Linked DNA regions of Homo sapiens: all the other regions are reported to be linked to region 3. Evidence: microRNA targets listed by miRTarBase, many of them from high-throughput screens and not tested one by one. Region 3 holds a microRNA gene; each other region holds the end of a gene's coding sequence. Distances are between the middles of the regions.

Region 1 (3,000 bases), not on the chromosome of region 3:
AAGCTCAAGTGAGGGTCTTTACCAGAGACATACCCAGAGATTTGCTGTAACGTCTTCAGGGGAATCCAGAATTCACTTACAGAGGCTATTTCTGCCAAGTGGCTTTCCCTGGAGCAGCCCAGAGCTCTCTTTCAATCCTAAGGGGATGTCTGTCTCACTAATTTCCATCAAGAAATCTGTTTTCTTGGACAGGCACAGTGGCTCATGCCTGCAATCGAAGCATTTTGGGAGGCTGAGGTGGGTGGATCACCTGAGGTCAGGAGTTCGAGACCAGCCTGGCCAACATGGTGAAAACCCGTCTCTACTGAAAATACAAAAAATTAGCCGAGCATGGTGGCGCATGCCTGTAATCCCAGCAGCTTGGGATTGGGAAGCAGGAGAATCGCTTGAACCTGGGAGGCGGTGGTTGCAGTGAGTCAAAATTGCACCACTGCACTCCAGCCTGGGCAATAGAGTGAGACTCCATCTCAAAAAAAAAAAAAAAAAAAAAGAAAGCGACAAAAAGAAATCCATTTTCACAGGAAACCAAAAATGAGCATTTTGGACTCAGTCTGCTAAATGATTATTCCTTTCCTGATACAGATTTTGGTTTTGAGAGTCAAACAGGGATCGGCAGCACAGCGTGACTTCGGTTTTGATTCAGAACCATTTTACTAGGCTCAGAAAATCATGCTTTGTCGAGTTCTGATGGATTCCAAGGGAAATCACCTATCAGGTAAAGCTGTACTTTCTCTCACCAAGACCCTGGAGGTAGCATTTCCACTTCCATTCTTTGCCGATGGCTCCTGTGACTGAACACAGAAGCTGTTTTCTGAAATAAGACGAAAGCGTTTGTGGAAGACCCACAGAATAAAAATAGAGATACAGGTGCTTACTTTCAATTCTTTTCTTTTAAATGTAAATAATCGCTCCATGCTCCATGCCGCCACTTACCTCAGCTGAATACAAAACAGCTGAATCCTTTTGAATCCTTTGTTTTTTTCTTTTTTTGAGACAGGGTCCTGCTGTTGCCCAGGCTGGAGTGGCAGTGGTGCCATCCCAGTTCAATGAAGCCTCAAATCCCTGGGCTCAAGGGATCCTCCCGTCTCAGCCTCCTGAGTAGTAGGGACTACAGGCACGCACCACCACATCAGCTCCGGGCGACAGAATGAGGCTCCTTTTTTAAAAAAAAAAAAAAAAAAAAACTGACTCTGAAGCTTAAAACCTTCACCTTTAGGAAGAAATCGTATTTGTTTGTTTGAGACCGAGTTTCACTCTTGTTGCCCAGGCTGGAGTGCAATGGTGTGGTCTTGGCTCACCGCAACCTCCGCCTCCCAGGTTCAAGAGATTCTCCTGCCTCAGCCTCCCAAAGACCTGGGATTACAGACGTGCATCACCATGCCTGGCTAATTTTTGTATTTTTAGTAGAGACAGGGTTTCACCATGTTGGCCAGGCTGGTCTTGAACTCCTGACCTCAGGTGATCTGCCTGCCTTGGCCTCCCAAAGTGCTAGGGTTACAGGTGTGAGCCACTGTGCCCGGCCTGAGGAATCGTATTTGGATTACTCATCTCTCCGGCCACTTTACTTACAAAAAACTAAACTAAGAAGTAAATAAGCCAGAACCCCTCCCTACTCATCCCCTTTGGTCTCCCCAAGAAGAGGAGGATTCTAAGAAAGGAGCTGGAGAGACAGTGGGGTCTTCGGGGGTTCCCTGAGACGCCTCTTCCTGCCCTTGTTCCAGCTTTGGAATTGGAAGGAGGGAACCTGTGTCTGAAGTGATTGACAGGTGGGGACAGGAGTGTGGATTCTGGCCTGTGCTTGACACTCAAACCCAAGCTACGGCAAGGGTTAGCAGCCCATGGAGGGAGAGGCCAGGAGGCCCGGGGAGACTGCTGTCCCTGAGCAGCTGCGCCGGGCTGTGCTTGCCCCTGGTGGTCACCATGCAACCTCAGGGGAACCTTCAACCTGGTGAATGGCAACTGGTTCCTCTGTTGAGCAAAGTCTCCAAGGAAAGCCGGGTTCTCCAGAGAATCTTAACACCCTGACCAGCCGGGAATCTGCTCCATGATGTGTGGATGGGGACACATCTCTGAGGGCCCCTGACAGCTTATTTAATCACACAGAGGATAGGTGCACAGATGTGGGTCCCTCAGATTGTAAACAGTGCTGTGTGGTCCTCAGGACATCAAGGTCCACTGGGTGGGGGCACTGTGGCCACAGCTGTGGGCCACCGGCTTCCCGAATCTCACTGCTACCCTTATGCAGATGAACGCCCACCCGTGGGCCAGGACGCTGGTACCGGTGGAACTTGCTGCCTGAGGATCTAGGAGGTAGAAGAAGCTGAGTTGGCAGCTGCTCTCCCAATGGAGCCGAGAGCATCAATAGCGGGGGCTTCTGGTGCAGCAGACATGCACTTCTGCCCCTGCAGCAGGGACTCACAGAAGTGCCTACCCCCAGGAAGGCAGCACCTATGCACAGAACTAGAAAGGACAAAAGCTCAGGTGCTTGGAAGTTCCCCTGGGGTCCCTTGGGATTCCTGAGATTCTCCTGGCTTGGAAGGCGCGGGAGCCTTGGGAGTGCCAGCCGGGCTCTTGGTGGGAGGCTGAGAAGAGCAGCAGCAGCAACAGAGAGAGAAGAGCCGAGTTCGGACGGCGCGGGTGCAGAGGACGAACATGATGCAGTTGGCACCTCCCTGAAACGTGTTCCCGATACCCTGTCGGGAGAAAAGGAGCTGTGAGCATGGGGCTGGAGTTGGTCTCAGAAACACACGCGCTGTTGCAATTAAGAGAAACGGCTAGGCTGGGTGCGGTGGCTCACACCTGTAATCCCAGCCCTTTGGGAGGCTGAGGTGGGCGGATCACTTGAGGTCAGGAGTTGAAGATCAGCCTGGCCAACAAGGTGAAACCCTGTCTCTACTGAAAATACAAAAATTAGCTGGGCATGGTGGTGGGCGCCTGTAGTCCCAGCGACACGGAGGCTGAGGCAGGAGAATCGCTTGAACCCAGGAGGCGGAAGTTGCA
Region 2 (3,000 bases), not on the chromosome of region 3:
GGATTCAAAATCCTGAGCCCAAGCAATCCCTCCTGCCTCAGCCTCTCAAGTAGATGGGACAATAGGCGCACACCACCATACCTGACTGTAAGCCACATACTTTAAATGGACCTAATTTCCAAGCCTGGCTGCCTGATAGAATGTGCTTTGGTCAGCTAGAATTGATACCATGTTAGAGGGTCAGCTGCACACAAAAATGGTGTTGCTGAGAGAAATGGCACATTATACCTGGTACTCCTTAGAGGTGCTCTATCTACTGTATCAATATAGCCATTAAAAGCTCAATCTGCCAGCTGTTTTTGAAAGACCCAATAATACTGTTATGACTATATAAGATAACCTTGATGTATGTCACTTTATGATACGTGTTTCTTAACATGACTCCCAGGGGGCCCTGGCTTAGAGCTGATTCCAAAGGCACACAGCTTAGGTCAAATTATAGGACACATAATATTTACTATTTTATTTACTGCCTAAAATGTTTCTCAACAACTAACAAGTACAGGAAACATTTATAGGTAGTAATGTAAGTACCTTATGAGCTCAATGACAAAACAGTGAATTACAGACAGTTGGAAGATGGGGACCATGTCTTAGATTCCTTTTGAACACTCCTCAGTGTCCAGTGTGGTGATATGCACATAACCAGTATATTTTAGTAAGTATTTACCCAAGTAAGACTTCTTTAGGCATTCCATTTTGGGATTCTTGTAGAAAGAAGCCAATTTTGTAGAACTCCTAGGCTTTAAACATTCGAGAATGAAAGGCTCTTGCCATTACTGATCATAATTCAAAAAGCTGGTGTTAAGTGTGACAAGTGGTGACTGTTCCATATATGCCAACAGGCATACAGCAGAATCCAGACAGAGTATATAGTAGCGAAAAAGATGGGAGAATATGAAGAACAAAGTCTATTTTAACATTAATTATGGCTATAATAACCCTTATGAGGAAATACTGGTGAGCAGGATAAAGTGATATTGAAAAGAAAAAAAGGAAAACTCCTCAAAACACAATAAAGCATATTCTAACAGGTTTTTGAAAAAGTTGCAAGCCTTTTAATTCATTGACCTCTTTTGACTGATTGGAATTTTTACCATTCTGTACACTCTGAATTATAACTAAACAACTACATGTTACTGACAAATTTGTGATTCTTTGAGTCTAAACAACACAGAAACTAGAAGATCCCTTTCCTAGATTTATATACTTGATTTTCTTATAAAAATAACTTCAGTTATTATGTCAATATTTATCTGAAAAAGGCAGCCCTCTGACAGTAAACTAGTAACTGGAATAACTACAGTATCATTATAAGCTACAGTAAAACAACCTGTAAAGTAATTTTTCCTATTTGAATAATAAATAGACTGGACAGGAGTGAAAAACCAAAACTACGAAAGAAAAACCCAATGTAAATAAAGGATACAGGTCAAAACAAAGTTCAGAAGGCAAATATGTAAATATTAGATGCCTCAAAAATCAACTATCAGTGGGAAAATTTCTATGAAAGCAATTTCAGAAAATACATGAACACATATATCTTTAAAATATAGAACTCTAAATACTTGATAACATATTTAGGATACTCTACAATGCCCAGTTAATTGCTATAATTTTTTTCCCTCAGGTTTTCCTGGATGATACGGCAAACTACAGAATTTGTGCACTTACTGTTGCTCAAATTTGTGTACTTACTGTGTGCACATATACTGCTGCACTGTTTCTCGGCTGTGAAAAATTAAAAGCATTTTTTCAACCTTTGAGAAGGAAAGAAAACAATGAAGAATCTCCTCATAATAATACAGCATAACAGGGTTTGTTTACTGTGCCACATCATGGGTGTTTTTAAAACGAAATATAAATATATGGTTAGGGATAGCATTTTTAGGAGAACAAGTGACCAAAAACTAAGTTACCTCTTTTCAGGTCAGCCAAAAAACGTGAAGGGAAAGTGGACTTTATACAACTTAGACATTTATGTAGATAGCACAGCAGACTCATGTTCAAGCCAGCCACCTGAAACATTATAAGTCCGTCGAGGGGGACAGCAATCTATGGTCCATGGACTGAATCCAGCCTACTTTTGTATGGCTCTGAGCTAAGAATCGTTTTAATATTTTTTAAAGGTTGTTAAAAGCAAATAACAAAGAATACATGATGACTCTATTCTTGTTCTCATGTGTGAACCATATATTATAGCCTGCAAAGTCTAAAATATTTATAAACCGGCCCTTTACAGAAAAAGTTTGCAGACCCTTCTTTTACACCAGTGCTGTAGATAATTCTGGCAGTACAACTGCAAGTCTAAGATAATGTTCATTCATTCCCATCATAAATGTAACATTCTAAATAGGTGTCTTCTGATGTCATCTGTCAGAATTTCTTTTAAACTTTTTCTTCATCTTCAACATTATCAAAGTTCATCCTATAATAATAATGTAAAGGCGATAGAGAAAGGAGAAAGTATGAGTTGGTAATGTTAAAAATAAGGTGAAATACCACAAACCAACATTTTACTTTTTCAGAAATACTCAATATTCTTATTTAATGGATCATGACATGAAATATACTTTGCCAAAATATAACAATAAAAAAGAAAAGAATATCCTAGTTCTTACCTGCTCACAGCAGATATTACTAACTATATAGGTTTACATAATTTCAAGCATATTGGGTATTCTCTTTAACTTAATTTCAGGTATGATATTTTAGATTATGACAATTTTTAAATTTCAAATATTTAATGAGATAAAAGTTACACCTTTCAAAATAAAATATCTTGAGAAAACTAATATAGCGAAACACTAGAAAAACATGTTTGTTCAGTGGAACCAAGAAAATACAGACTCATAACTCTTTCCTACCTTTCAGATTCGTAAAAAATATTCTTGAGGTAGGTTGTAAGGCTTTGTCTATTGGGGTCTGCAGTTTGAACTGGATTACAGTAGAACCTATTGTCTAATATGGTGCTATAAAGCCAGTCTTCTCTAGCCCTTT
Region 3 (3,115 bases):
CACCCACTCCCGCCTGGGCAACAGGGAACCTGTCTTGGAAAAAAACAAACCAAAGAGAACCCCAACATCATGCAAGTCTGATGATAAGCACGCTCTGCAAATGTATTACCAAGATCAGCAGCATCTTCAACGTTGCTTTTCTCAAACAGTAACACTCTAAAGGGATGCACGATCTTTTCTTAGACAACAGACAGTGCTTCCATCTAGAGGGTCACAGCATGAGGTCTTCTTGCTCCAGTACTGTAGGGTTCTTTTTTTTGTTTTTGTTTTTGTTTCTTTTTGACGGAGTCTTGCTCTGTTGCCGAGGCTAGAGTGCAATGGCACGATCTCGGCTCACTGCAAGCTCCGCCTCCTGGGTTCAAGCCATTCTCAAGCCTTAGCCTCCCGGGTAGCTGGGACTACAGGCACCCACCACCACGCCTCGCTAATTTTTTGTATTTTTAAATAGAGATGGGGTTTCACCGTGTTAGCCAGGATGGTCTCGATCTCCTGACCTCGTGATCCACCCGCCTCGGCCTTTCAAAGTGGTGGGATTACAGGCGTGAGCCACAGCGCCCAGCTTTTTTTTTTTTTTTTTTTTTTCAGACGGAATCTCACTCTGTCATCCTGGCTGGATGCTGTGGCACAATCTCGGCTCACTGCAGCCTCTGCCTCCCGGGTTCAAGCAATTCTCCTGCCTCAGCCTCCTAAGTAGCTGGGATTACAGGTGCCCACCACCACACTGGGCTAATTTTTGTTGTTATTGTATTTTTAGTAGAGACGGATTTTCACCACGTTGGTCAGACTGGTCTCAAACTCCTGACCTGAGATGATCTACCTGCATCGGCCTCCCAAAGTGCTGGGATTACAGGCATGAGCCACCATGCCCGGCTTTATTTTGTATTTTTATTCATTTGTTTATTTTTTGAGACAGAATTTCCCTGTGTTGCCCAGGCTGACCATTTGAAGCCAAGAGATATATTGGACATGTCACTGCACTCCAGCATGAGCAACACAGAGCCTTAGAATAAAAAAGCAAAACCAAAACAGAACCCCACCATCGTCCAAGTGTGATAAGCATGCTCTGCAAATGTATTACCGAAATCAGCATCAACTTCAACGTTGCTTTTCTCAAACCGTAACCCACCAAAGAGAAGCACTTTCTTTTCTTTTAGACAACAGAAAGGGCTTCCCTTTGTAGACTCACAGCTTGAGATCTTCTTGCTCCGGCACTCTGGGTTTCTTGTTGAAATTTTCCTTGACCTGGTCAAAATGGACACAAAAATAAAGATGCATTTATTGGTCCTGTTTGCATATTTTCTGGAATCTAGAACATAAACCGATACAAAGACCATCTCCAGTTCCTTGCTTCAAACGTTCAGCAGGTTAGCCTTGTTCATCGAGGGACAACTGTCCTGGGTTTTGTCTTCAAAGAGAAAAAGCAACGCCTACTACATATACCTTATATTCTCAGGAGTTAGACACCAGCCTGGGAAACATGGTAAAACCTCATCTGTAAAAATACAAAAGTTAGCCAGGTATAGAGGTGCATGCCTGTAGACACTAATTCAGGAGGCTGAGGTGGGAGGTTGAGGTTGCCGGGAGCCGAGATCACACCACTGCACTCCAGCATAGGTGACAGGGCCAGATCTTGTCTCAAAAACAAACGAACGAACAAACAAAAAATGCACACACCAACAAAAAAATGCCCAAAGTGATATAAGAGTATTCTCAGGGTGTAAAAGAGTCTTTTGTGTGTACATGATATTATATATATAAGAATATATGAAGGCCAGCCGCGGTGGCTGTCTGCAATCCCAGTACTTTGGAAAGCCAAGGTGGGCAGATCACCTGAAGTCGGGAGTTTGAGACCAGCCTGACCAACATGGAGAAATCCCGTCTACTAAAATACAACAAATTAGCTAGCCCTGGAAGTGTATGCCTGTAATCCCAGCTACTCAGGAGGCTGAGGTAGGAGAGTCGCTTTAACCCAAGAGGTGGACATCGCAGGGAGCCCAGATCACACCATTGCACTTCAGCCTATGCGACAAGAGCAAAACTCAGTCGCAAAAACATAAAAAATAATAATAATAAAAGAAACTTCCATATATTGTATGCTCACAGGAAGAATACTTCCTACACACAAGTGCTAGCTTTGGCAGCACGCATGAAAAAATTGGAATGACAAAGATTACCATGGGCCCTGCGCAAAGGTGACACTCAAATTCATGATGATCTCATATTTATCTATTTTTATTTTTTAACGTTTAATGTTTATTTAATAGTTTTATTTATTTATTTAGAGACAGAGTTTCACTCGTTGCCCAGGCTGGAATACAATGGCACAATCTCGGCTCACCACAACCTCCGCCCCCTGGGGTTCAAGTGATTCTCTTGCCTCAACCTCCCGAGCAGCTGGGATTACAGGCATGCGCCACCATGCCCGGCTAATTTTGTATTTTTAGTAGAGATGGGGTTTCTACGTGTTGGTTAGGCTGGTCTTGAACTCCCGACCTCAGGTGATCCGCCACCTCGGCCTCCCAAAGTTCTGGGATTACAGGCATGAGTCACTGTGCTCGGCCTATTTATTTAATTTTTGAAACAGAATCTCACTCTGTCACCCAGGATGGAGTACAATGGTGTGATTTCGTCTCACTGCAATCTCCTTTTCCCAGGTTCAAGAGATTCTCTTGCCGTGGCCTCCCAAGTAGCTGAGATTACAGGTGTCCACCACTGTTCCCAGCCATTTTTCCTAATTTTAGTATAGACGAGGTTTTGCCTTGTTTGCCCAGCTAGTCTTGGACTCCTGACCTGAGGAGATCCGCCTGTCCTGGCCTCTCAAAGTGCTGGGATTACAGGAGTGGACCACCGTGTCTGGCCTATTTTTTATGTTTTTGAGATGGAGTCTCACTCTTTTTGCCGAGGCTTGAGTGCAGTGGCGTGATCTCAGCTCATTGAAAGATCAGCCTTCCAGCTTCAAGCGACTCTCCTGCCTCAGCCTCCAGAGTAGCTGGGATTACAAGCATATACCACCACCATGCTGGGCTAATTTTGTATTTTTAGTAGAGATGGGGCTGCACCATGTTGGCCAGGCTGGAATCAAATTCCCGACCTCAGGTGATCCTCCTGTCTCAGC
Region 4 (3,115 bases), not on the chromosome of region 3:
TCTTTGCCCAAAGTTGAAAAAGTTAAGTGAGACAGTTCACTGCATGCAGATGTCAAACTACACAAAAGTTCATTTTGCACAAAAAAGTTCTTGTCTCCTTTAAGGAATATATCCAGACTAGCTCAGGTGCATCCCTCCTGGATTCATGTAATCAGATCTGCCCTTCTGGAGAGGCACTGGCACGGATCATACAAAACTCAGTTCCATACATGATGAATTTCAAAAAGGCATACACTACTTTCTTCTATAGCAATGTTAAGATTTCAGAAATAGAAATTAACTGGTTCAAAGAGTCCATAGGTAAAGGTCAGGACAACTCTTGATCTCTAATTCCACGCAACATTGTCAACAGCTGACAATGACTCAATACAAGCAAGGCTGTTTAGAAAGCACTGTTGATCAGGATTTGGATGGATAATTAAGATCAACAGAGTATCAATTCCCAGAAAGCTAATTTTGCTCTCTTATATTCTGAGCCAAATGGGTCTGCTTTGGAAGAGAGCATCAAATGTTCTGAAGCAAAAACAATGTGAAAAGGAGGAACAATGGGAAGCAGGAGATATTTCTGGGTCCCACAATGGCTAAGGTAGCCTTGGGCAAGTCATATGCCCCTGGATTCAGTTCCATCAACTATAAAAAGGATTTTGCTAATTCCATTGTTCTGTGATTCAAACACTTCTAGCCAGCTTAAGGTATCCTCAATCAGATTTGCTTTTTACTTGTCATTTTCATGAAGGAGAAAAACCATTATATATATATATATATATGTATATGATGGTTTTATACTTTCTGGTGGAAGAGCGCCTATTTACTAGAAAATATTAAATCTATTACTTGATGTAAAATGTCATGTGTTTCCACCACTGTATAATAACATTAATAAATGAGTAGAGTGGATGAGATATGTCACACACCACAGGAATTATTTGGTTGTAAAATTCTTTCATAAATATTAGTAATGTGAACTCAGCTGAGCTCTGTGGAGTATAGCCACTCTGTCTCATTCAAAGGGTGATAAAACCCTTTCTATTGTCATTTTCAAACATATATAAAGGCAAACGAATCCAAACAAGCATAAAAGAGGCTTGGTTATGATGTGAGAGGGTCTGATGTTAAAGTTTGGGCAGGGGGACACTTGCCATATATCACAGGTGCTTTCTCCTTCACTGAACTGTTTAACAAAACGAAACTCAGTTGAACCGAAGCTAAAGACAACTACAACCATCTTTCCCAGTTCTTTTGAATAAATCAAGGAATAATTGTAAGTGCTTCCCTGTTCCCTGTCCTAGCCATTTCTCCAAGCCTGTACTCAGGCTCCCTCTGTGATCAACAGAGAAGACTGTCCATTTGGGGAGGGAAGTCCTCATTTGCAACCAATTCTCTTTCACCCTGACTGACTTTTGCTAGATTGCATCTTACTTGTTATTCAAAGAGTAGTCTAAAGAGCATGAGCCATTTGCATTTGGAAAATGGCATTTGTGTAAAAGGTGACATTGCCATGGTTTTACACACTTTCCTCCAGTACGTAAAAACTATCTCCATGCCCCCATCTCTCCGTTTGATTTATAACTTGTAATTAGCATATTTTTAAGCTCCCAAGTACCAGTTTCTCAGCTGAAGATGACAAATGGCTCAGTTTTAGACACTCAATTTAGGAGATGGGATTCTCAAGCCACACACACAAAAAATCTAATGAGCACTTTACATAATTTTTAGTATAAATGCTGAGAAATTCATTTAAAGGTAAAGTCTTATTTGCCAAGCTATTTAAGAAGAGTGAATTAGGGGTTAATGTTTTATGAAGTTCTCTGCTTTGTGCAGGTAATTATTTCTCTCTTTAAAAAATCTAGTAATTTGATTGTATTATGCAACATCAGATCTGCAGGTACAAATTATACACATGCATGTTAATGAGCAGGTTTTGTGCACATTCAAAAGTGAGGCGTTTTAAATGTCAGTCCCAAGAAACCTACAGAAATATTCTAAAGAAAGAGAGCATATTTGCATGAACCTGTCATGTTCTTAAGCACATATACTTCTGTTCCCCACTAATAACACTTTAGTTGAAATCAAACACCACACATATACAGCAAAACACTACAGTATGTAAAAACCTAACACAGCACAACACAATACAACACAAGAAATGGTACTGAATATATTTGTTACATCCTGAATCAACCCAATAGACTATCTTGTAAACAAAATAGTAAGGTAACACTTCAAAAACAGATGAACAATTTATCCACCAAGAATGTATATAGTAAGCCAAAAGCTCACTGTGGAAATACACTTAGCATGGTTATTAGAAAATCACAAAGAGTAATGTAACAAGTTACCAAATTTTATGGTCATGTTCTGCTTGATAATTCAAATAGGATGGATGGTAGTTACTAGTTTTCTATTTGTGTTGTTTTAACATCTCCATTGATTTTTAATGCTTTATTTTTTATTTGAATTTGCTGGCTGGCAGGTTTGCTTTGCTTAATACATTGACTGCAACACGCTTATTGTTGTGTTGGTAGAATAAGACATACGAGAATATATATAGAAAGGCCATATGGAGGTTTCCATGGAAAGATTCTGATACTCCATAACTCTGCTGTTCAGAATTTCAGCTGAAATGGAAAAAAAAAGAAAGAAAGAAAGAGTGAGAAATATTGAAAGGTTATTGAAGGAAGAGTCAGGAGAGTGTGGTGGGTCTTGTTCCAGTTCTGTCTGTTAACAGTGCCAAAATATCCCCAATCTGAATTTCAGATTGAAATGGGGCTTTTGAGAATGATCATGAAAGAACCATATATCTATGATAGTCTATGATACCCTTTGAGTGCTAATGTGGAGAACTGTCCTAACAGAGATGCAATCCAATGTTTAAGGCATTATCTATCTACTTTTTGTTGAACATACACCCATGTGTCCACCTTTCAACAGGCATGTACTGAGAAAACATGTTTGATACCGAACATTTTGAAATATGCAAATATTAAATACACTTTCAACTTTTTCTCTGAATGTTTTAGAGCCATGCAGAAGTAGCCTACCTGTGAAATCTGGGTATTGTATTGTACAAAATTACATTTTTGAACTTTAGAGGAATTTTTAGCACCTATTACAT
Region 5 (3,115 bases), 15 Mb from region 3:
CCGCTAAAACCTGCTCTTTCTCTCAGGGATAACTGGCCACTCTGTGGGACATTCCCTAGCCGCGTCCCTCCAGTCTGTGGGGGCTATGGCCTGTCCACTTGGCTCCTGAGTGTGCCCGCACTCACCCCTCCTCCCTTCCATGGCTCAGCCCAGGCCCATCGTCTCCCTCTTCATTCCTGCCTCAGCCTCCCACAGGCACCCAGCCTCAGTACCCGCTCTGCTCCACCTCTCCAGAGCAACTAGGGGGATCATCCTAAAACCCAAACCTAACCATGACCCACTCCTACTCTAAACCCTTCCATGGCTCTCTAGGGCCCTCAGGAAAGAGACCAGGTTCCCATGCTGGTCATTTAAGGACACTAACGGGTGCTCGTGCGCACCCCTCTGCCCTCCTTCCCTCTTTCCCTGCATACCGTTCATACTAAACTGCTTGTCAGAAGCTGGTGGCCAGCATGCTTTTCCATCTCCAGGCCTTTGCACACAGCTCCTCCCACCTGGTATGCCCTCTCCATGCCTTTTCTACTTGTCTACTGTTGGGACCCAGCTCAAATGCCCCAGCCCTTTTTAAAATTTTTATTTTTGTAGAGATGGGGTCTTGCTATGTTGGCCAGGCTTGTCTCAAACTCCTAGCCTCAAGTGATCTTCCCACCTTGGCCTTCCCAAGGTGCTGGGATTACAGGACTGAGCCACTGTGCCCCGCTTCTTTCCTTCTTTTCTTTTCTTTCTTTCTTTTTTTTTTTTGAGACGGAGTCTTGCTGTCACCCAGGTTGGATGCAGTGGCGCGATCTCGGCTCATTGCAGGCTCCGCCCCCACCGGGGTTCACGCCATTCTCCTGCCTCAGCCTCCCGAGTAGCTGGGACTACAGGCGCCTGCCACCTCGCCTGGCTAATTTTTTGTATTTTTAGTAGAGACAGGGTTTCACCGTGTTAGCCAGGACTTACTTTCTTTCTTTTTCTTTTTTTCTTTCTTACTTTTCTTTCTTTTTCTTTTTTCTTTCTTACTTTTCTTTCTTTTTCTTTCTCTCTCTCTCTCTTTCTCTTTCTTTTTCCTTCCTTCCTTCCATCTTTCCCTTTCTTTCTTTCTTTCTTTCTCTCTCTTTCTTTCTTTCTTTCTCTCTTTCTTTCAGACAGGGTCTCACTCTGTCCCGCAGGCTGGAGTGCAGCAGTGCCATCATAACTCACTGCAGCCTCAAACTCCTGGCCTCAAGTGATCCTTCCACCTCAGCCTCTGAAGTAGCCAGGATCACAGGCATGCACCACCACACCCAGCTAATTTTTAGATTTTGTGGTTGTTGTTGAGATAAGGCCTCACTGTGTTGCCTAGGCTAGTCTCAAACTCCTGGCCTCAAGCGATCCTCCTTCCTCAGCCTTCCAAAGTGCTGGGTGTATAGGCGTGAGCCACCACACTCAGCCTGAAATCCTTTTGAAGTTGTATTATGATGATCACCATTTTACAGATAAGGAAACAAAATCAGAGAGGTAGTGTGACTGCCCAAGGACACAGGCCAGACGTGGCTAAGTTGGGATTTGAGCTCAACCAGGCTGATTCCAGGGCACAACATACAAATGTGGACAGCTCTTACAATGGTGTCATGGTTAAGGGCAGCACCTCCCATGCCATTCAGATCTGGGCTGGGGTCCTATGTCTGTTTCCTGCCTGCCAGGCTGCTGAGGAAGAGTCTATCGCCCAGGCCTACACCAGGGGTCCCTCCATGGGTCCTGCTCCCTGGAGACACCTGAGAAAAATGAGTCAGGTACAACTTCTTCCTGCCTATTTCTCATAGTTCAGGTCTTAGTTCGATGTCCCTTCCTCTAGGAAGTCCTCCCTGACTTTCCAGGCTGGATTGGGCCTAGTCCCTATGCTTCTCCGACTTCAGCCCTGACCACTCTGCCTGTGCTTTCAACACCTCACCTCCTCCATTAAAGTCCTGACCATTTTGGGCCATCACTGTCTGGGGACAGGTCTGTCCACCTCACTGGACTGCAAGCTCCATAAGGGCAGTTCTCCACCCCCAACTATGTCTCCAGCACTGTCTAGCACAGGGCCAGCACACAGGAGGGGTTTAGGGGCAAATTCTTCTATTCTTCCCATTTGGCAGCTGAGGAAATCAAGGCTCAGAGACGGGCAGTCACTTGTCCAGGGTGTAGCGACCAATCTGGTGCCTGAAATGAGGTCTGAGCCCACAGCCCAGTAGAATCAGCAGTTGACGAGTGGTTAATTGAGAGACACAGACGGAACATGAAAGAGAATGAGAAACAGAGACAGCAAGAGGGAAAGACAGAGGCAGCGAGAATGCCAGAGAGCCAGAGAGACACAGTGTAAAGAGGATGAGAGAAAGGACAGAGAACAAGGTTATGTTGGTGCCCAGTGGAGCCCGGGACATGGGGACAGGGAGTGCTGCCCTTCACATCCCAGCCAGATGCTGGGAAACAAAGGAGAGACGGTGGACGGCAAGGCCTCAAGATCACCTGCTGTGCTCGTGGACATTCCTGTACAGCCAGCTCTGGTCGCCTGGACCCCTCAGTCCCAGGCCAGGCACACCCAAGCCTGGCAGAGGCTGCCCCAGCTACCTGGGGATGGAAGCGTAGTCGGTGTGGGAGCTGGCAGAGAGTTGCTGGTGCGACTCCGGCTGGGGGCCCAGGATGTCCACCCGATCGTCCTCATCCGCATTGAAACTGGCAGGGCACGGAGGGGGCAGCAGGATGAGCTCCGTGAGGCCGTGGAGGTCGGACACGTGGCGGAAGGTCTGCAGCACCAGCACCATGGCCACCAGGCCCAGGAAGAGGTAGACTGTAAAGGCGGAGAAGGGGCGTTGGTCATCCTGGGGCTCAGATTTTCCAGGCGGGGCCGCAGTTCTACTGGACCCTGCAGGGTGGGGTTGGATCCCTTTTGGAAGTCCCAGAGTGGGACTGTGAGCCTTTAACTCCCCCAGGGACAGGGCTAGGTCCTCCTCAAAGCCCTGCCCTAGCCACCCAGCTCACCTGTGACCAGCACCTTGTAGAGGGCCCGGTAGGGCTGGCCAGGGGCCTCCCCGGGCACGTAGTCGCCCAGGCCGATGGTGGACAGAGAGATAAAGCAGAAGTAGAAGGCATCCAAGAAGCTCCAGGCCTCCTC
Region 6 (3,101 bases), 21 Mb from region 3:
CACTAAAAACTGTCCCAAAGTGCTGCTTCCTAATAGGAATTCATTAACCTAAAACAAGATGTTACTATTATATCGATAGACTATGAATGCTATTTCTAGAAAAAGTCTAGTGCCAAATTTGTCTTATTAAATAAAAACAATGTAGGAGCAGCTTTTCTTCTAGTTTGATGTCATTTAAGAATTACTAACACAGTGGCAGTGTTAGATGAAGATGCTGTCTACAAGGTAGATAATATACTGTTTGATACTCAAAACATTTTTCATTTTGTTTAAAGTAGAAGTTACATAATTCTATATTTTAAGTCTTGGGTAAAAAAGTAGTTTTACATTTTATAAAGTAAAGATGTAAATGATTCAGGTTTAAAGCTCTATTTGACTTCCTTTTTTTGTTTGAGATAGCGTCTTGCTGTGTTGCCCAGGCTGGAGTGCAGTGGTGTGATCTCAGCTCAGTGCAACCTCCGCCCCCTGGGATCAAGCGATTCTCCTACCTCAGCCTCCCAAATAGCTGGGACTACAAGGTGCCCTCCAGCATGCCTGGCTGATTTTTGTATTTTTAGTTGAGGTGAGGTTTCACCATGTTGGCCAGGCGGGTTTCGAAATCCTGACCTCAAATGATCCACCCACCTCAGCCTCCCAAAGTGCTGGGATTACAGGCATGAGCCACCACAACCGTCCCACTATTTTACTTTTTAAAATGACATTCCTACTGATTGATTTTTATCTTGCTATAAGTTCGATGACACCGTGAATCTAATAAGGTTCACTGTTGACACAGTACAAGTTACATAGCTAAAATACATAGCATTGAAGACTAATTTTAAGGATTGACAAGAGTTTATTTTCTATTGTGCAATATCTTAAAGGAAGCAACCACCTTTGGGAAAGTGTATCTGCTGCTCCTAGGGCCATGCTTGTATACATATTTAAATAAACATATTCATTTACCCGAGTTAATATTTCTTTTTACTTTTATTTCATTTTCATTCCCTCCTCTTTCAAATTGTTTCTCCCCAATGCACACAGTTTCTAATGTTCTGATTTTTTTAGTTACTAACATTTCACAAAGCAGAACTTAAAAAGCTGTCAAGTTATCTTAGTATTTTCTAAGACAGATGGTATCTTTGTGCTTATTTTTTGTTTTTGTCTTTTTTTCAAGACAGGGTCTCGCTTTGTCACCCAGGCAGGAGGACAGTGGCGCAATTGTGGCTCATGGCAGCCTCAACCTTCCGGGCTCAAGCAATCCTCCCACCTCACCCTCCTGAGTAGCTGGGACTACAGGCATGAGCCACCATGCCTGGCTAATTTTTTTGATTTTTTTGTAGAGATGGGGTCTTGCCATGTTGCCCAGGCTGATCTCGAAATCCTGGACTCAAGCAATCCTCCCACCTCAGCCTCCCAAAGTGCTGGGACTACAGGTGTGAGCCACTGTGCCTGGCCTGTGTCTATTTTTTGAATGGGCAATTTGTACCTTTTGATCCCCAGCCCCTGCTTCCCTCACTAGATGCAGCTGCTGCCATCATTTTCTTGTATCCTTCCATTGTTGGGCCTTTCATATACAAACACAGCCTGTTCTGCCTCATGCATGTTGAGTTTTCAACTTTAAATTTTTTTTTTTTTTTTTTGAGATGGAGTCTCACTCTGTCATCCAGGCTGGAGTGCAGTGGTGCAATCTCGGCCCATTGCAACCTCCACCTCCTGGGTTCAAGCGATTCTCGTGCCTCAGTCTCCTGAGTAGTTGGGATTACAGGTGTGTGCCACCACACCCAGCTAATTTTTGTATTTTTAGTAGAGACAGGGCTTCACCATGTCGGCCAGGATGGTCTGGATCTCCTGACCTTGTGATTCACCCCCCTTGGCCTCCCAAAGTGCTGGGATTACAGGTGTGAGCCACTATGCCCGGCCGTTGAGTTTTCAACTTTAAGTGGGAACTTCAGACTTCATACTTTCTGTGTGCAGAAGACATATGCAGTGATTATAAACAAACTGTACATCTGCCAAAAAAAAAGGCCGGGGGGAGGGAGGAACAAAGGAAAGGAGGAAGGAACTGTTGCGCAGTTATTTATTTACATTGGAAACAGCCCTCGCAGTACGGGTATATGAAGGCCAGACCTGATGAACAGCAGGTGAAACTCTGGGAACCCAGGGCTTAGGATACACAGTGCTTCCTTGTACATTTGTTTCCTTCAGATGGTCACATCCACCACTGAAGCTTTTTAGAAGGCACTTTCCATGACAGATGCAGGTCAAGGTCGCACATTAAAATCGGCCCTAATGCTTTTTGCTGAGTGTGAGTCCCTGACTCTCTTGCGAAGATCCCACCAGCCCTTTTCGTCTTAGCAGAATGAAGGCAGTGCCCTCTGCGGCCCACTAACTTCACAAGCTGAACTCAGACGCTAAGGCAGGACGACCCACGGGCTCCATTCAAGCCTCGCCTCATCTTTCACTGGTTGCTGCTGGAGAAAATCCTTTTTCTTTTTTTTTTTTTTTTGTTGTTTTCTTTGAGACGGAGTCTCGCTCTGGTGCCCAGGCTGGAGTGCAGTGGCACGATCTCAGCTCACTGCAACCTCCGCCTCCCGGGTTCAAGTGATTCTCATGCCTCGGCCTCCCAAGTAGCTGGGATTACAGGCACCTGTCACCATGCCTGGCTAATTGTTCCTATTTTTAGGGGTTTCTCCATGTTGGCCAGGCTGGTCTTGAACTCCTGACCTCAGATGATCCGCTGTCTTCGGCCTCCCAAAGTGCTGAGATTAGAGGCGTGAGCCAGTGCACCCGGCCCATTCTCTTGGTTTTTAAAGCTGAAAACAAGATCCTGGTGTTTGTGGTCTCAGGAGAAGATGCCGTGGCCCTGAGGCCAGCCCTCACCTGGGCTGCGTGAAGAAGGCATGGATCTGCTGTGCCACTGCTTGTCCGACCACCTGCTCCAGTTCCCCAATGGAAGCATTACTCAGTTGCTGGATGCTTGGAAACTTCTGGAGGAGAAGGGGAGCTTTAACTTTTCCAACTCCTGGGATCTGCTGCACGGTTCGAAGGAGCGAAGGCTCAGACAGCAGCAGGGCCCGTTTCTTCCCGAGAAGAGGGTTCTTACTGGGCTCTTTGGTTTG
Region 7 (3,095 bases), not on the chromosome of region 3:
GGAGGTGGTTCCTATTCACCAACTGGACATTCCTGTTGATAACCCAATCGAGAGCAATAACATTTTTCTGGTGGCCCCTTTGATCATCTGCCACGTGATTGACAAGCGCAGTCCCCTGTATGACATCTCAGCAACTGACCTGGCCAACCAAGACTTGGAGGTCATAGTTATTCTGGAAGGAGTGGTTGAAACTACTGGCATCACCACACAAGCACGAACCTCCTACATTGCTGAGGAGATCCAATGGGGCCACCGCTTTGTGTCCATTGTGACTGAGGAAGAAGGAGTGTATTCTGTGGATTACTCCAAATTTGGCAACACTGTTAAAGTAGCTGCTCCACGGTGCAGTGCCCGAGAGCTGGATGAGAAACCTTCCATCCTTATTCAGACCCTCCAAAAGAGTGAACTGTCTCATCAAAATTCTCTGAGGAAGCGCAACTCCATGAGAAGAAACAATTCCATGAGGAGGAACAATTCTATCCGAAGGAACAATTCTTCCCTCATGGTACCAAAGGTGCAATTTATGACTCCAGAAGGAAATCAAAACACATCGGAATCATGACAGCAAGATAACCCCAAGACAGTCTTTTATCAAGTTTTGACGGTTTATGCTGGGCACTGCCAGACTGAACCAGAGCTGGAACACAATAATGTGTCCTTCTACATTTTATTACACTAAATGATATTCATATTCAAGCAACAGCACTTTCTGTAGTAATAAAAAGTAACACACCAAGTGGAGGATTCATGGCTTATGCTTGTTTCATACATGTAGAATTCGCAGTGATATACTTAAGTTATGTGCAGGGGTGGGTATGCTCGTTTCTCTCAATTTGAAACACAAGAATTACACTAATAGTAACAGGCCTTGAGCACAAAATTTGGTCAAGAAATGAGTCTGTTTGAAATGCTTAGTTGGTGAAACCCAGATCGCTGTGTTACTAATGATCACTCTGGAAATGCAAATAGAATAGGAGGGGAAAAAACAAAATCATGTTAATGCGTTTTGTACATCAGCCTTCTCCTGTCTCCATGATAACTGCATTTGGTAGGAAGCCTGAGGCAAAAACTGCTTAAGTGGATCTGTTTGTAAGTGGATTCAGTTCATTCGCTTTGTCTGTCGGTGACTCCTGAAGGTTTCCTGGTCCATCTCATTGCGGCCTGTTGGGCAGAGCTGGACAAGGTGTCTTTGAAGGAAAGCTAAGTCTTGTCTCATTTAGGACTGGGTTCCCCACAGTGACAGTCACTTCCTTCAGCATCTCACTTCTTCTTCTAGAATCCCCACAGGGAAATACTGTATTGAATATTTTATTAAAACATTTTCTTTGTACTCACTGTAGTTTTGTGATTCCTCTTTCACAAAATCATCCCAAGTTAAAACTCAAGATGTTTTTAGAGCCATGTAAAAGAGATGTCAAAGTGATAACACTCACTCTGAGATTCCTCTCTCTCAAGTCTGTTTGCTCCAAAACTAGCTTTTTTTTGCTTTGTTTTGATTTTATTTCAGGTTTTAAAATGTCCTCTTGGTTTTTCAATCTAAGCCTGACATACCATAAAAATCCTATAAGCTTTTTTTTTTAATCTTCAATCTCCCATCTTAAAACTATACTTCCTTCCCAGTAGTATCTGAATTTAGGCTTGGCATTTATAGATTTAGCATCATCTCATTTGCTAAAGTGAGATTTTCTATCAAAGCTTCATTTAAGCATATTTAGTGCCTGCTTCTTCAAGGAAGGGATGAGACAGGAGAGAGAAGTACTAGGTTAATAAACTATATATGCTTTTATTCTTACATTTTATAGCTAAACATCAGAAAGCTGAGCTATTGTGAAATCTTTCACACAGATTTGGGGGTTTGTATTTATGAACATTGAAATAGGTAATTATGAAATGTTCTATCTTAAGACTCATGATTCCAACCAGGTGAACAGAAACTGTTTATCACGTCATTGAGTTAATCATTCCTGAAAGGGTTCTAACTGTTCCTCTGAACTCCAGACTCACAGATCAAACAGGCACCTGAGGCTCCACTTGGAGATTGAACAAGCATTTCAAACTTACTAGGTCTAAAACCAAATACTTCATTCTCACTCACAAAAGCTGCCCTCCTCCCAGTCTTTCTTCCAATCACTCAGGCATCAAGCCATGACCTGGAAGTCATTCTTGCTGCCTCTTTCATACCCTACATGCCATCCATTAGCAATTACCTCTCGGCTCTGCCTTCAAAATATATCCAGAATATGACCAATTCTCTTTACTCCACCACTTCCTTCATAGTCCAAGCAAGGATACTGTATATATGCATGCATCTGTACCAATTGTTTGAATATTAAAACATTTCTGTCTAGGTTGCTAAAGACTATCTTAATAAAACTTAACCCAACAGCAACTATGGAGGTGGATATCAGACCTCAAAGCAGTTCTGGAACAGATGCAGGTTCCCACCTTCCCACCCCAGGGCAGCTGAGCAGACCCAGAGGTAGCTGCCACACAATCCAGCAGTAAGAACATGGATAGTGCCTTCCTGCTGCTCAGTAGTAGCCCAACTTTGTAGAGGTGACACAGGCTGTGCAACAGGTGATGTCAGGACATAGTGGAGCTGAGATGCAAAATTTCTGAGTCCAGGGTCTAGAGAATTCCCTGGCACCAGGGGCAAAGCTAGCTATGGAGTACGGGAAGTTCCCCCAGCCACCTTCCAGCTGCAACTAAACGCTGAGTGTCAAGGACCTAATGACTGTCAATATAATGGGCATGTCAACGAAAGGTTATGAGGGGCTCCCTATGTCAAGCTGTGGCTCAGACAGGGACATCATTTAGCTAGAGACAGCCACACCAAACAAAAGGTTCTATCAACAATTTCTAAAAGTCTGAAAATGTTTTAGAGAGTATTAAAATGATTTTCTGACCTATTTTTGCTAAAACATATTTCACTGGGTAAGCAATTTTGAGAACTACATAGTTTTAGAAGATAAGACGGACTCTGTACATATATATGTGTACATGTATGATTTTGACTTACATATTGTGTTTAAATATTATTTTATATTCAGTATTTTGGTTCTCTGCTTCTACCCTTTCTTCCACCTCCATAATTC

The links. The annotated mature microRNA hsa-miR-520d-3p reads AAAGUGCUUCUCUUUGGUGGGU and lies in region 3 at 1,121-1,142, opposite strand. An mRNA with a match to its seed (bases 2 to 7 or 8) in the 3' UTR can be bound and repressed. Matches are read on the target gene's strand: a 7mer-m8 pairs with bases 2 to 8, a 7mer-A1 pairs with bases 2 to 7 and ends in A, and an 8mer does both.
Region 1: miRTarBase lists GPR157 as a target of hsa-miR-520d-3p. Seed matches in the 3' UTR shown: 7mer-m8 at 1,484-1,490.
Region 2: the mRNA of DNAJC10 is a reported target of hsa-miR-520d-3p. The part of its 3' UTR that is shown has no 7-base or 8-base seed match.
Region 4: miRTarBase lists MBNL3 as a target of hsa-miR-520d-3p. Seed matches in the 3' UTR shown: 8mer at 1,263-1,270.
Region 5: miRTarBase lists KCNK6 as a target of hsa-miR-520d-3p. Seed matches in the 3' UTR shown: 7mer-m8 at 1,375-1,381.
Region 6: the mRNA of FAAP24 is a reported target of hsa-miR-520d-3p. Seed matches in the 3' UTR shown: 7mer-m8 at 2,737-2,743, 7mer-m8 at 1,864-1,870 and 7mer-m8 at 1,399-1,405.
Region 7: miRTarBase lists KCNJ8 as a target of hsa-miR-520d-3p. Seed matches in the 3' UTR shown: 7mer-m8 at 702-708.

The regions. Positions count from the first base shown.
Region 1 is chr1:9,101,942-9,104,941 of GRCh38, forward strand. GPR157 (G protein-coupled receptor 157) reads right to left here. Exons shown (of 4, transcript NM_024980.5): 4 at 1-2,693. The coding sequence ends at 2,478. Among named protein-coding and RNA genes, the nearest start is that of GPR157, 26 kb to the right of the region's middle. RefSeq lists an enhancer at 2,158-3,000.
Region 2 is chr2:182,776,549-182,779,548 of GRCh38, reverse strand. It overlaps DNAJC10 (DnaJ heat shock protein family (Hsp40) member C10), which reads right to left. Exons shown (of 24, transcript NM_018981.4): 24 at 1-2,428. The coding sequence ends at 2,417. Among named protein-coding and RNA genes, the nearest start is that of DNAJC10, 62 kb to the right of the region's middle.
Region 3 is chr19:53,718,176-53,721,290 of GRCh38, reverse strand. MIR520D (microRNA 520d) reads right to left here and starts at 1,195; the gene lies at 1,109-1,195. It overlaps MIR517B (microRNA 517b), which reads right to left and starts at 215; the gene lies at 149-215. It also overlaps the pseudogene RNU6-803P.
Region 4 is chrX:132,377,060-132,380,174 of GRCh38, forward strand. It overlaps MBNL3 (muscleblind like splicing regulator 3), which reads right to left. Exons shown (of 9, transcript NM_001386889.1): 9 at 1-2,618. The coding sequence ends at 2,607. All of the region lies in intron 2 of RAP2C-AS1 (RAP2C antisense RNA 1), which reads left to right. Among named protein-coding and RNA genes, the nearest start is that of MBNL3, 110 kb to the right of the region's middle.
Region 5 is chr19:38,326,856-38,329,970 of GRCh38, reverse strand. It overlaps KCNK6 (potassium two pore domain channel subfamily K member 6), which reads right to left. Exons shown (of 3, transcript NM_004823.3): 2 at 2,983-3,115; 3 at 1-2,791. The coding sequence ends at 2,568. Among named protein-coding and RNA genes, the nearest start is that of CATSPERG, 7.4 kb to the left of the region's middle.
Region 6 is chr19:32,976,440-32,979,540 of GRCh38, reverse strand. It overlaps FAAP24 (FA core complex associated protein 24), which reads right to left. Exons shown (of 5, transcript NM_152266.5): 5 at 1,312-3,101. The coding sequence ends at 2,859. It overlaps RHPN2 (rhophilin Rho GTPase binding protein 2), which reads left to right. Exons shown (of 15, transcript NM_033103.5): 15 at 1-949. Among named protein-coding and RNA genes, the nearest start is that of FAAP24, 5.7 kb to the right of the region's middle.
Region 7 is chr12:21,763,190-21,766,284 of GRCh38, reverse strand. KCNJ8 (potassium inwardly rectifying channel subfamily J member 8) reads left to right here. Exons shown (of 3, transcript NM_004982.4): 3 at 1-1,330. The coding sequence ends at 562. The region is part of intron 2 of KCNJ8-AS1 (KCNJ8 antisense RNA 1); the gene reads right to left. Among named protein-coding and RNA genes, the nearest start is that of KCNJ8, 10 kb to the left of the region's middle.